Regions from separate parts of the Homo sapiens genome. Here regions 1, 3 and 4 are each linked to region 2. The links come from fine-mapping of genetic effects on gene expression. A gene starts in region 2. Each other region holds a variant in brackets. All regions are shown on one strand. Distances are from middle to middle.

Region 1 (2,602 bases), 440 kb before region 2:
CCGTGGAGCAGGGGGCGGCGCTCCTCGGGGAGGCTCGGGCAGCACAGGAGCCCACGGAGGGGCAGGGAGGCTCAGGCATGGCGGGCTGCAGGTCCTGAGCCCTGCCCTGCGGGAAGGCAGCTAAGGCCCGGTGAGAAATTGAGCACAGCAGCTGCTGGCCCAAGTGCTAAGCCCGCTGAGCCCACACCCACCCGGAACTCGCGCTGGCCCGCAAGCACCGCTGGCAGCCCCTGTTCCCGCCCGCGCCTCTCCCTCCACACCTCCCCGCAAGCTGAGGGAGCCGGCTCCGGCCTTGGCCACCCCAGAAAGGGGCTCCCACAGTGCAGCAGCGGTCTGAAGGGCTCCTCAAGTGCCGCCAAAGTGGGAGCCCAGGCAGAAGAGGCGCCCAGAGCGAGCGAGGGCTGTGAGGACTGCCAGCACGCTGTCACCTCTCACTACCACCGCCAGATGCTAAGTCTAAATTTATTTAAATTTCTAAAGGTTTTCTCCCTCCTTCCCAGAACCTCTCCCTCCTGAAAAAGGTCCAGCTGCTTCTGTACCAGACACTCTAGCGAGACTCAAATGTTCTTCCTGACCAAATGCCCACCTCAAGAAGAACCTGGAGCCAGGAAGAAACCAAGGGTGGCCACACACCTCATCTGCCCTGCTGTGCTGGTGCCAGGCGAGAAAACAGAAATAGAGCCACGGAGCTCAACAGCAACACCTCATATGGTGCCAGCAGACAGCGAGCAAGGCCCAGGCAGATAAACACATTAAGGCAGGCTGTGCAGCGCAGGCCACGTCCAGGCCTCAGAGGGACTTCATCTCAGCCAGCCAAGGTCAACTCCATTCTAAGGCTTAGTCAGCCTCCTCCTCTGGGGGCTCAGACTCCCCTGGCCAAGATCACTCATGTACCAAGAGGATTGGACAAGGCCACGAGTGAGGCCAGGTGCCAGCAGGGCAAAGGCAGGCAAAAGGCACCACAGATCGCATGTGGTGGCAGCAAGCCAGCTGTGTATAGATTCAAGCCTCAGACCCACCTCTGAAAATCCTACCCTACTCAAGCCTGACCACCTCCTCCAGGAAGCCCTCCTGGCTCTTGCTAATTAGCAGTAAATTGTGTGTTCTCTTAACATCTAGAGTAATACTTCTCAACATAGGGTTGCGAGACCAGCATCATCAATAAGCACCACCTGGGAAGTTGCTGGAACTGCTGTTGGAAGTTCTCAGGCCCCACCCAGGCCAAGCAACTTAGAAACTCTGAGGGTGGGACC[C/T]AGCAATTGGTGTTTTAATAATGTCCTCCTAGTGATTCTAAAGCAGGCTGTGGTTTGGGAGCCACTAATCCAAAGTCTAGATTCTAAACCACTAACTGGACACCTGTGTTTTACATGCAATCCCTGTGCTCCTGGCTTCCCTGGGAATGTGGTTGCATTTCAGAGCCTGGATCGCACATGCCCATCAATCCCCCACCTTGCCCAGCCCAGGATGCCACAGCAAGTACTTCCTCAGCAAACACCTGTGGAATTTAATTAGCTTGAGTTCAGATACCACCATCAGGTTACAAAATCACAGAACCTGAATGCTGAAAGAGGCTTTAGTGCCCATCCAGCCCAACTGCCCATCAAGGCTCTGCCAGGACCCAGCTTCTCCACGTTTCTCTCAGGTCAGGTCAGATGCTCCACTAATGCCTGGGAGTTCAGTCTCATTCGTTCGCCCAGCAAATATTGACTGAGCATGGGTGCGAGGCACACACAGATGTTCCTGCACACAAGTGAACGAGACCAATGAGAATCCTTGCTCGGAGGGAGCAGATATTCCAGTGGCAGGAGAGACCCAATCAATAGCAATAAATAAATAAAACAAAAAAAAACCCATATGCTTTAACCATTAGAAAACATCAGACACACCAAAATATACAGACCGCCTATGAAAATAACTAACCAGCACTCTTCACCAATGTCAAAGTCATGAAAGGTAAGGAAAGACGAGTCACAAAAGCACACTAAGGAGACATGGTGGGTACATGCAATGTGGGACCCTGGACTGGATCCTGGAAAAGAAAAACAGCATCAGTGGGAAAAGTGATGATATTTGAGGAAGGCTTAAAGTTTGACATGCAGTTTTAGACCAACATGAAACTTGTTCTTTTCTATAGTGATGTAAGATGTGAACAATTACGGGAAACTGGCTAACAGGTAGACAGGAATTCTCTGTACTAATTTGCAAATTTTCTGTATAATATTTTGATGGCAAATCCAGTTGGGAAAGATGGTCCAAATAAGAGGTGAGGTGCAGTTGGCATCCTTAAATAGAGAAGTGACATGTGGGCAAGATGACATTTGGGCAAGACCCAGAGGCAGGAAAGGGGCCAACCAGTGGCACTGTGAATGACATGAGGCCAAACTCAGTCTTGCCAGGATGTTTACCCGTTTGTGCTTGTTCTTCTATCCAGATGAATTCTGACCACGCTTTGAACACTTACAATAATGCTGGAGGACCCTCAGTCTTCTCTTTAGAGGAGGCCTCACAGTCCTGCAGCTGTGCCCACTGAGTGTGCCCCGGCAGCCTGAGCCCCTGGAGTGGACAGTAAGAGAGAGCGCACAAAGGCAGTGGGGTCCAATAA
Region 2 (2,602 bases):
TTTCGCCATTTTGCCCAGGCTGGTATCGAACTTCTGACCTCAGGTCATCTACCTGCTTCGGCCTCCCAAAGTGTTGGGATTATAGGCGTGAGCCACTGCCCCTGGCTTCCAATTTTTTTTTCCTTTTTTTTCTTTTCTTTTTTTTTTTTTTCTGAGACGGATTTTCGCTCCTGTTGCCCAGGCTGGAGTGCAATGGTGTGATCTCGGCCCACTGCAACCTTTGCTTCCCGGGTTCTGGCGATTCTCCTGCCTCAGCCTCCCGAGTAGCTGGGATTACAGGCATGAGCCACCACGCCCCGCTAATTTTGTATTTTGTATTTATTTATTTATTTATTTTCGTAGATACGTGGTTTCGCCATGTTGGCCAGGCTGGTATCGAACTCCTGACCTCAGGTGATCCGCCCGCCTTGCCCTCCCAAAGTGCTGGGATTACAGGCGTGGCCATCGCGCCCGGCCAAATATTTTTCAAAATCTAATTTTGCATAATGACCAAGATTTGCAGAAAAATACAAATTAAAGAGATCTTTTAAAGTAAAGATTCGTCATAAAAGTCACAGAAATAATACTCATGAATAATAAATTAGAATGGGCAATGTTAAGTACTTGAAATAACAAAGGTTTTAGAGTCAGGGTTTCTGCAGTTTCCCTAGCCATATAACGAGGAGACTGTTAGAGAGGATATCCTAAAATGCTTTCCAAGTTTACCCACCTCTAACTCGGAAGAAGGCAATTTAAACTAATTTGGTTTACCGGAATTCAAATACGTACAATTCAACATAATGAATTGAACTGAAATTGAACACCTGCTTGCGTAAACCTAGTCGGCTCGAGTTGTTCTGGTTCTGGATTGGTCAGTCTAGAGTTCCAGGGGTGTGGCCAAAAGTCTGTGAGGCGGGGCCGTAGGCAGCCTAAATCAGGCATCGGCGCGGTCAGCCTCGTGGCGCGCCCACGCCCCCACGCCGGCTCTTCCCGGGGTCCTTCCGTGCGCGTTGATATGATTGGCCGGCGAATCGTGGTTCTCTTTTCCTCCTTGGCTGTCTGAAGATAGATCGCCATCATGGTGAGTCTCCCTGGGCCCGTGCAGTCATCTGCCGCGTATCCGAGCCATCCGTGGTCCCTGGGTCCCAGTACTTGAGCTATAGGCACGCGAAGCCCGGTTGCTCTTCTCTGGCCGTTTCTGTCAGAGGATGGTTGTCGAGGGGCTCGGGGCTGTTGGCAGGGCGTCCGGGCTGGCGGGCTGCGCTGTAGACCCGGACACGCTGGGCTTCGGGCTCCAGCGCCTGGGCAGTGCAGGAGCTGTTGCGCTTGTTGACTTCGTGGAGCACGGTGGATGGGGGTAGGGGGCGGGCGGGATAGATGGACACTGGGAGGCACATCTCGTCTGCAGTTCCTCATTGGGCTAGGTAGGCGGCTTGCAGGTGATGGCAGTACAAGAGGTGAAGAAGGTGCGGGCAGCGCCTGGGCGAGTTGCGGCAAGTGAAACCATTCCCACGTGTAAGCTAGAAAACTTGTCAGCTGGATGGATCTTCATGTTTCATAGTGGGGAAACAGGCCCTGGAAAGAGATGTTATAAAAAGGTAGTCCTGCCCTAAGTCATGCGTTATTAGCTCCTCCAGCATCCGTTTTTAACTTTACCAGCAATCTTTTTTTTTTCTCCTTACCTTTGATCCGTTACTTTCAAGAATTGAGTACCACTGACGTGGATTTAATTTGGTGTGGTTTCTCAAAGTAAAATGGAGAAAGTCTAGGAAGTTATTTGCTGCCATGAAAGTCTCTTGCGCCTCCTTTTTGGTAAAATTGTTAGCATAAATTGCTTAATGCCCACATTTTTTGTTAGGTATTAAGTAAAGGTGCAGTTCAGTCCTTCAGAAGGGAATATCGTTTTCTCTGATCTCTGCTATGGCCATTCTAGAAGGATAGATTACATGTAGGTAGTGAGTACAAGGTTTGGGGCACATTTGTGCAAGACATGATAAACACAGTTCATTGAGTGACCTTTATATGAGCCACAGCAGTTTTTACCCCAGAGAAGTGATTCTCAACCCGGAGTGATTTTTCTCCTAAGGGAACAGTTGGCTAAGTCTGGAGACATTTTTGATTGTCACAACTGGGAAAGGTGGGAAGTGCTTCCGGCATCTAGTGGTTAGAGGGCTGGGATTTTTATAGTTATTCTAAAACATACAGTCCCCACAACATATCCATATGGAATTATCCATATGGAAATATCAGTAGTGCTGAGGTTGAGAAACCCTGCCCCAGAGATACACATAACCTAGTGAAGTAAGTTGTACAGATTCATGTGTAAAACCATTGTGTTTTCCTGGTATTTTATGTATTCCTTAGGTGTATCCTGTGAGTTTGGCCTTGCCCAGTGGGTTTTATTTACTTTAGTTCGCTACATGACTAATGGCTACAAATTGGACTGCAACATTCTAGGTCTTGGAAAATCACAGCAAGGCCAAGAAAAGTTGGAGTAGTTTTATTAACCAGAGTGTTTATGTTTTCAGAACGACACCGTAACTATCCGCACTAGAAAGTTCATGACCAACCGACTACTTCAGAGGAAACAAATGGTAAGGAAGGGCACATCAATCTTTGCTTA
Region 3 (2,602 bases), 480 kb before region 2:
TAAATCTCTTGGTAACAAGCCAAGCCGGACTGCCCACAGCTATGGGCAGGTCTGCTGTGTCTTTCGCCTGCTGAAAGCCCAGGTTGCAGCACAGGGAACAGCAGAGACAGGATCAAAGGCTCTCTGAGGACAGTCTGTGGCAACAAAGTAGCAGCTCCTCTCTGATGAGGTAAGGAAGAGTCCAAAGAAATTACTTTTGGGCTGGGTGTGGTGGCTCACACCTATAATCCCAGCACTTTGGGAGAACAAGGCAGGCAGCTCACTTGAGGTCAGGAGTTTTAAGACCAGCCTGGCCAACATGGTAAAACCTCCTCTCTACTAAAATACAAAAATTAGCTGAGCGTGCTAGTGTGCACCTATAATCCCAGCTACTCAGGAGGCTAAGGCAGGAGAATCACTTGAACCTGGGACGCAGAGGTTGCAGTGAGCCGAGATTGCACCACTGCACTCCAGTCTGGGTGACAAGAGTAATACTCCATCTCAAAAAAAAAAAAAAAAAAAAAGAAAGAAAGAAAAGAAAAGAAAGAAAGAGAAAGAGAAAACACTTTTGAAATTTGGAAATGAGGAAGACTAAGGAAGAGTCCAAAAGAAACTTTGCCTCTGCCCAAGGAGCCCACAAACTTTCCAAGGCCTTCCTGTTCCTGGAAACGGTGCCATCTCCAAAGACTCCTCCGCACATGGAAGAGCCTGATCTCTCGGGCACAGTCAACCATTACGGCCCATTTTCTCAAACTAGGCCCTCCTGGGGGTCTTAGGGAAAGGGGGCAACATTACACAAGGCAGGTGAAGGGGATAGCCAATCACAGAGGGGTGCAGGTTGGCATTGACCTCTTCCTAACTTTTCTCATAATATGAAAGTGACTTCTCTTCTCAGAAGAACCGTTCATAATGAAATTCGAGCTGCCTCAATCTTCCTTGATCATCTCTTCACTCTTACCACATACACACACGCACGCACACCACAGGAAAACGCATCAGATGAAGAACTTCCCCAGTCCAGTGCAGATTTAAGAAAGAGGACACTGACATAGGGAGGTGGGCTGGGGAGCTGGGGAGGGGGCAGACAAACAAGGGCATGTGACTGATACACTTCAGGGCGGGAGTCAGACGGCCCCCTCACAGGCCAGGGTGACATGTGACAAAGTCACAAGGCCCTGTGGTATTTCTTGAAACTTGATTTCAGCCCA[A/T]GTCAAACTCCATGGATCAAGGGTCATTTCTGGCTATTATAGGATGAGAGTATCCAGGACTGAAGACCTCATGGGGCAGAAAGAAAAAAAACAGAAAGGTAGCTCTTGGAGAAATAACCTAAAGATTAGAATCAAGGAAGAGCCAACCTCTCTTCTAACAGGGAAAAAAAATTTACTAAAATGACACTTCAGCATCACCTATTTTTTCAAGCTTGTCTTTCTGAACAGAACTTGAAAACACAGTTGTAAAACTGTTTTACTAGTTCAGCCGACTTAGAAAAACAAAAAGAGCTTCTCACAGCTTTAAACAGAGTCCTGTGCTGAAGTGTTCCAACACTCCAGCCCCACTCTGGGGTTAAGAATGACAGATGATGCAATGTAAAAACATCATTTTCCACTGGACACAGAGAACATGGTACAATACTTTGGAGGTTAAACAGATGAGAAGGGAACAGTACAGAGACCCAAACTTAGCTCCTCCATGCCTCTAGCACACACATATGCCTCATGGAAGGCATCTGGAGAGGTTAGTGCTAGAGAGGCCAGAAATCTTGTTTCTGGTTCTGTGCTGGAATTAACTAGGTAAACCCTGGATGAACTGTTACATCTTTGATCGTCACTACCTGAGAATTAACTTAGACAAACATTGACACTCTATAAAGCAGCAATTGCAAAATGTGGGTTTTCAAAAGCACTCTGAGTTCTTTTCAAAGAGGATGGCATAAGAATCGACACAGCTGACATATGGTGTGGACAGAGAGAAATAGCTTGGGCTTGGATTTCCGGTCAGTTCCCCTTTCTGCCAGTTACCATCAGAGGAACCATGGGCAAATTACCCAATCTCTCTGAGCCTGTGTCTTCACCTTTAAAAATGGTATTATAGTTCTCAAAGTAATTGCGAGGAATTAAAAGTCAATTCAGGGTCAGGCGCGGTGGCTCATGCTGTAATCCCAGCACTTTGGGAGGCCGAGGCAGGTGGATCATTTGAGTTTAGGAGTTCGAGACCAGCCTGGCCAACATGGTGAAACCCCATCTCTGCTGAAAATACAAAAACTAGCCAGGCATAGTAGCATGTGCCTGTAATCCTAGTTACTCGGGAGGCTGAGGCAGGAGAATTGCTTGAGCCTGGTAGGCAGAGGTTGTGGTAAGCCGAGATCACACCACTGCACTCCAGCCTGGACAACAGAGTGGGACTATCTCAAAAAAAAAAAAAAAAAAAAAAAAGGGAATTCTATGCCCTGTAAAGTGCAGTCTATGGAAGTGATGATGATGAAGACCAGGATACAGTACAATAAGGACTCTTTATGCTTTCAAAACCGTGATTATGCTGCATCTGGTGGAAGCCAGGACTCTGGAAATATGGCCCAGACACACCCAGAACTGAGGATCAAGATGAGCGTGGATCCCTGGGTCAT
Region 4 (2,602 bases), 220 kb before region 2:
ATGGTGAAACTGGTCTCTACTGAAAATATAAAAATTAGCCGGGTATCGTGGCACATGCCTGTAGTCCCAGCTACTCGGAAGGCTGAGGCAGGAGAATCGCTTGAACCTGGGAAGTGAAGGTTGCAGTGAGCTGAGATTGTGCCAGTGCACTCCAGCCTGGGCGACAGAGCAAGACTCTGCCTCAACAACAACAACAAAAGTCAGCCCTGACTGGCTCACCAGATGAGAGGCTGTACTCCTCCGTCTTTGGTGCCACCTGAGATGGCAGCAAGCCCACTGTGCAGGTAGATGGAGGCCTGGCCTGCTCAGCAGCTCAGAACTCACCTCCAGGATGAGGTCCCCTGGCACGAGGCCGTCAGGACCCTTGGCAGGACTGTCATCCTCCACCTCGGCCACAAACACCCCATGCAGGTTCCCACCACACAAGTGCACCCCAAGCTCCAGCTGGGACTTTTTGATGAAGACAACGCGTGGCTCCAGGGTCTTCTTGTTGGCATCTCCCGCAATCCTTTCAGGAAAAAAACAAAGTTCCTCAACTGTGCACAAAGAGGAGGCACAAAAAGACAAAGCAGTGGCCAATGCCCTAACCGCTTTCTGCCTGCTTCTTGGGGTCTCAGAACCACAGGGAGCTGAGAGGTGGCCTCTAGTTCTACTGGCTCGGCGTTCGGGACAGGATGCTAAGGTGCACTGGAGATGAAGGCAAGACCCCAGGTCCAAAGCCAGTTAGCGGGGGCAGTCAAAACCGTAAATCAGTGCCCCTGCTCCCAGGCCCGGCTATCAATCTCATGCCTTAAAGATCAGGATGGCCTCCCTCCCATGTGGATCACACTCATTTTCCTAACTTAGTACTTCCTAAGGAAAGGTAAAGTTGGCCTCACTGTCCAGAGCACAGCAATGTATTCAGCAAATGTCTACGAAGAAGCTTCTATAGACCAGCAACTGCTAACTTGTGAAGAGGGGCCCCTTGCCATCAAGGCACTTACAATCAAGGAAGGGAAGCTGAAAGTAAGCTGCTGAACACATGGAGGGAGTGAGATGGGACAGCGATGGAAACAGATACAGGGGGCTTCAGGGGAGATGCCAGCCCGGGAGGAAAACCTTGCAGCAGGTAAGTTCCAATGTGACAGACTCTGGTATAGAGAATGCAGAGCTGGCCTCATTCTGTGAGATGCTGCCCAGGGCTTGGTGAAGGCCTCTCAGTGCTGGAGACACAGCTCCTCCAGGACGGCAGAGTGATCATGTCACACCATGGCCTGGATGGCCCTCCCTGCAGCCCCAGGCCAGGCTGGACGCTGTGCAGCTCCCATGGAGCTCCTTCCTCCTCCTGAACTCTGCTGCTCCCTCGGCCTGGACTTCTCTTTATGCCCACTCTTGGCTCTTGCCTGTCCTGAACATTTTAATCCAGCTGCCACCTCCCCTGCCACACTCCAGTGATCTTCCTGCCTGCTCTGCGGCGGCCGGCAGTGCCCTCCCAGCACCCTGACTCTGCTGCACGTGCCCGGCACTGGTCTGCCACCTCATTGGGGGAAGCACTGCTGTGGGTGGCCAGAGCCCAGGGCCTGGCCGGGTGATGACTGTGGGAATGTGTCCAAAGACAGACTCAGAAAGCGAGTGAACAAGAAAAGGAGAAGAGAAAGAGAAGATG[C/T]AGGGGAAAAAACAAGTCAATAGAAAACAGGAGAAAAAGAGAAAGGAAAAGAGAGAGTAGGGAAGGAAAAAAGGAATGCCGTGCTCCCGGCCCAACTCCTGAAGACCTGGTGTGCGGCCTGCAGCACATGAGGCCAGCTGCCCAGTGCCCACGCCACTTGGAGAATGTGCTCAGCCCCACCCAGCCGAAGCGGACACAGGGAAGGCTCACAGCAACGTCTGCTGACCTGGAGCTGCTCTGCTTGGCTGGGGGGGTGCTAGGCCCCTCGTCCTGCTCCATCAGTGGGTCGATGACAGATGGATGCTCCGGGGTGGTGGTGCCACTGCCCTGGAGAGTGGAGTGGGTACCGGCAGGGTCCAGGTGTGAGCTGGAGGCGGAGGACAGGAGGGATAAGGAGCAGTACGAAGCCACCCAGAGCCACCCCCACTCCTGTGGCAACTAGATCTGAGCTATAAATGGGGACCAGGTCACATAGCCCTGCACCCTGTGCCCTGAGCAGAGCAGACACATTAGAAGCCTGGACCCATGACATCCACCTGTCCTCTCCCCTCCACCTGTCCTCAGCTCAGGGGCCCTCTCCAAAGGCATCTGACCTCAGGAAGCTGTGAGCATCCTGTCTCTTTTCCTCTGCCTGTGCATCCCATCTCTCCTGCTGAGCTTGTGGCGCAGCACTGCAGGGCATGCCTCCCCTTCTTTTCTGCCCTTCAACCCACAGCTCAGGGGCAGATACAGACAGGTGTACAGCATCTGCTCCTGGACAGGGAGCCAAACACTTTGAGTGAGAATCCACCCCCGGGGCCACAACTCCTGGCTACCATGGGCCCCTGCTGGTCAGGGGGACCACAGCCATCTGTTTCCACACCCCATTTCAGGAGGAGACAGCCTCTCTATATATGCCCCTTTTCCAAAATCCAGGGCTGGTCAACTCTCTCTTTAGCAGCAGTAGGATCCCCAGAA

Evidence for each region. PIP is the estimated chance that this variant, and not a neighbour inherited with it, causes the effect. A credible set is the group of variants that fine-mapping cannot tell apart.
Region 1: its variant is the best candidate, but not a certain one, in a credible set for the expression of RPS24 in whole blood (INTERVAL, PIP 0.63).
Region 3: its variant is the best candidate, but not a certain one, in a credible set for the expression of RPS24 in whole blood (INTERVAL, PIP 0.70).
Region 4: its variant is the best candidate, but not a certain one, in a credible set for the expression of RPS24 in whole blood (INTERVAL, PIP 0.60).

What each region holds. Positions count from the first base shown.
Region 1 is chr10:77,590,319-77,592,920 of GRCh38, forward strand. All of the region lies in intron 1 of KCNMA1 (potassium calcium-activated channel subfamily M alpha 1), which reads right to left. Among named protein-coding and RNA genes, the nearest start is that of KCNMA1, 46 kb to the right of the region's middle. RefSeq lists a silencer at 2,176-2,364. The variant C/T (reference allele first, on the strand shown) is at 1,254.
Region 2 is chr10:78,032,845-78,035,446 of GRCh38, forward strand. It overlaps RPS24 (ribosomal protein S24), which reads left to right and starts at 1,019. Exons shown (of 6, transcript NM_033022.4): 1 at 1,019-1,060; 2 at 2,508-2,573. The coding sequence starts at 1,058. RefSeq lists an enhancer at 819-1,348.
Region 3 is chr10:77,554,116-77,556,717 of GRCh38, forward strand. All of the region lies in intron 1 of KCNMA1 (potassium calcium-activated channel subfamily M alpha 1), which reads right to left. Among named protein-coding and RNA genes, the nearest start is that of KCNMA1, 82 kb to the right of the region's middle. The variant A/T (reference allele first, on the strand shown) is at 1,188.
Region 4 is chr10:77,809,223-77,811,824 of GRCh38, forward strand. DLG5 (discs large MAGUK scaffold protein 5) reads right to left here. Exons shown (of 32, transcript NM_004747.4): 23 at 1,872-2,012; 24 at 325-508. Among named protein-coding and RNA genes, the nearest start is that of DLG5, 120 kb to the right of the region's middle. RefSeq lists an enhancer at 1-36. The variant C/T (reference allele first, on the strand shown) is at 1,646.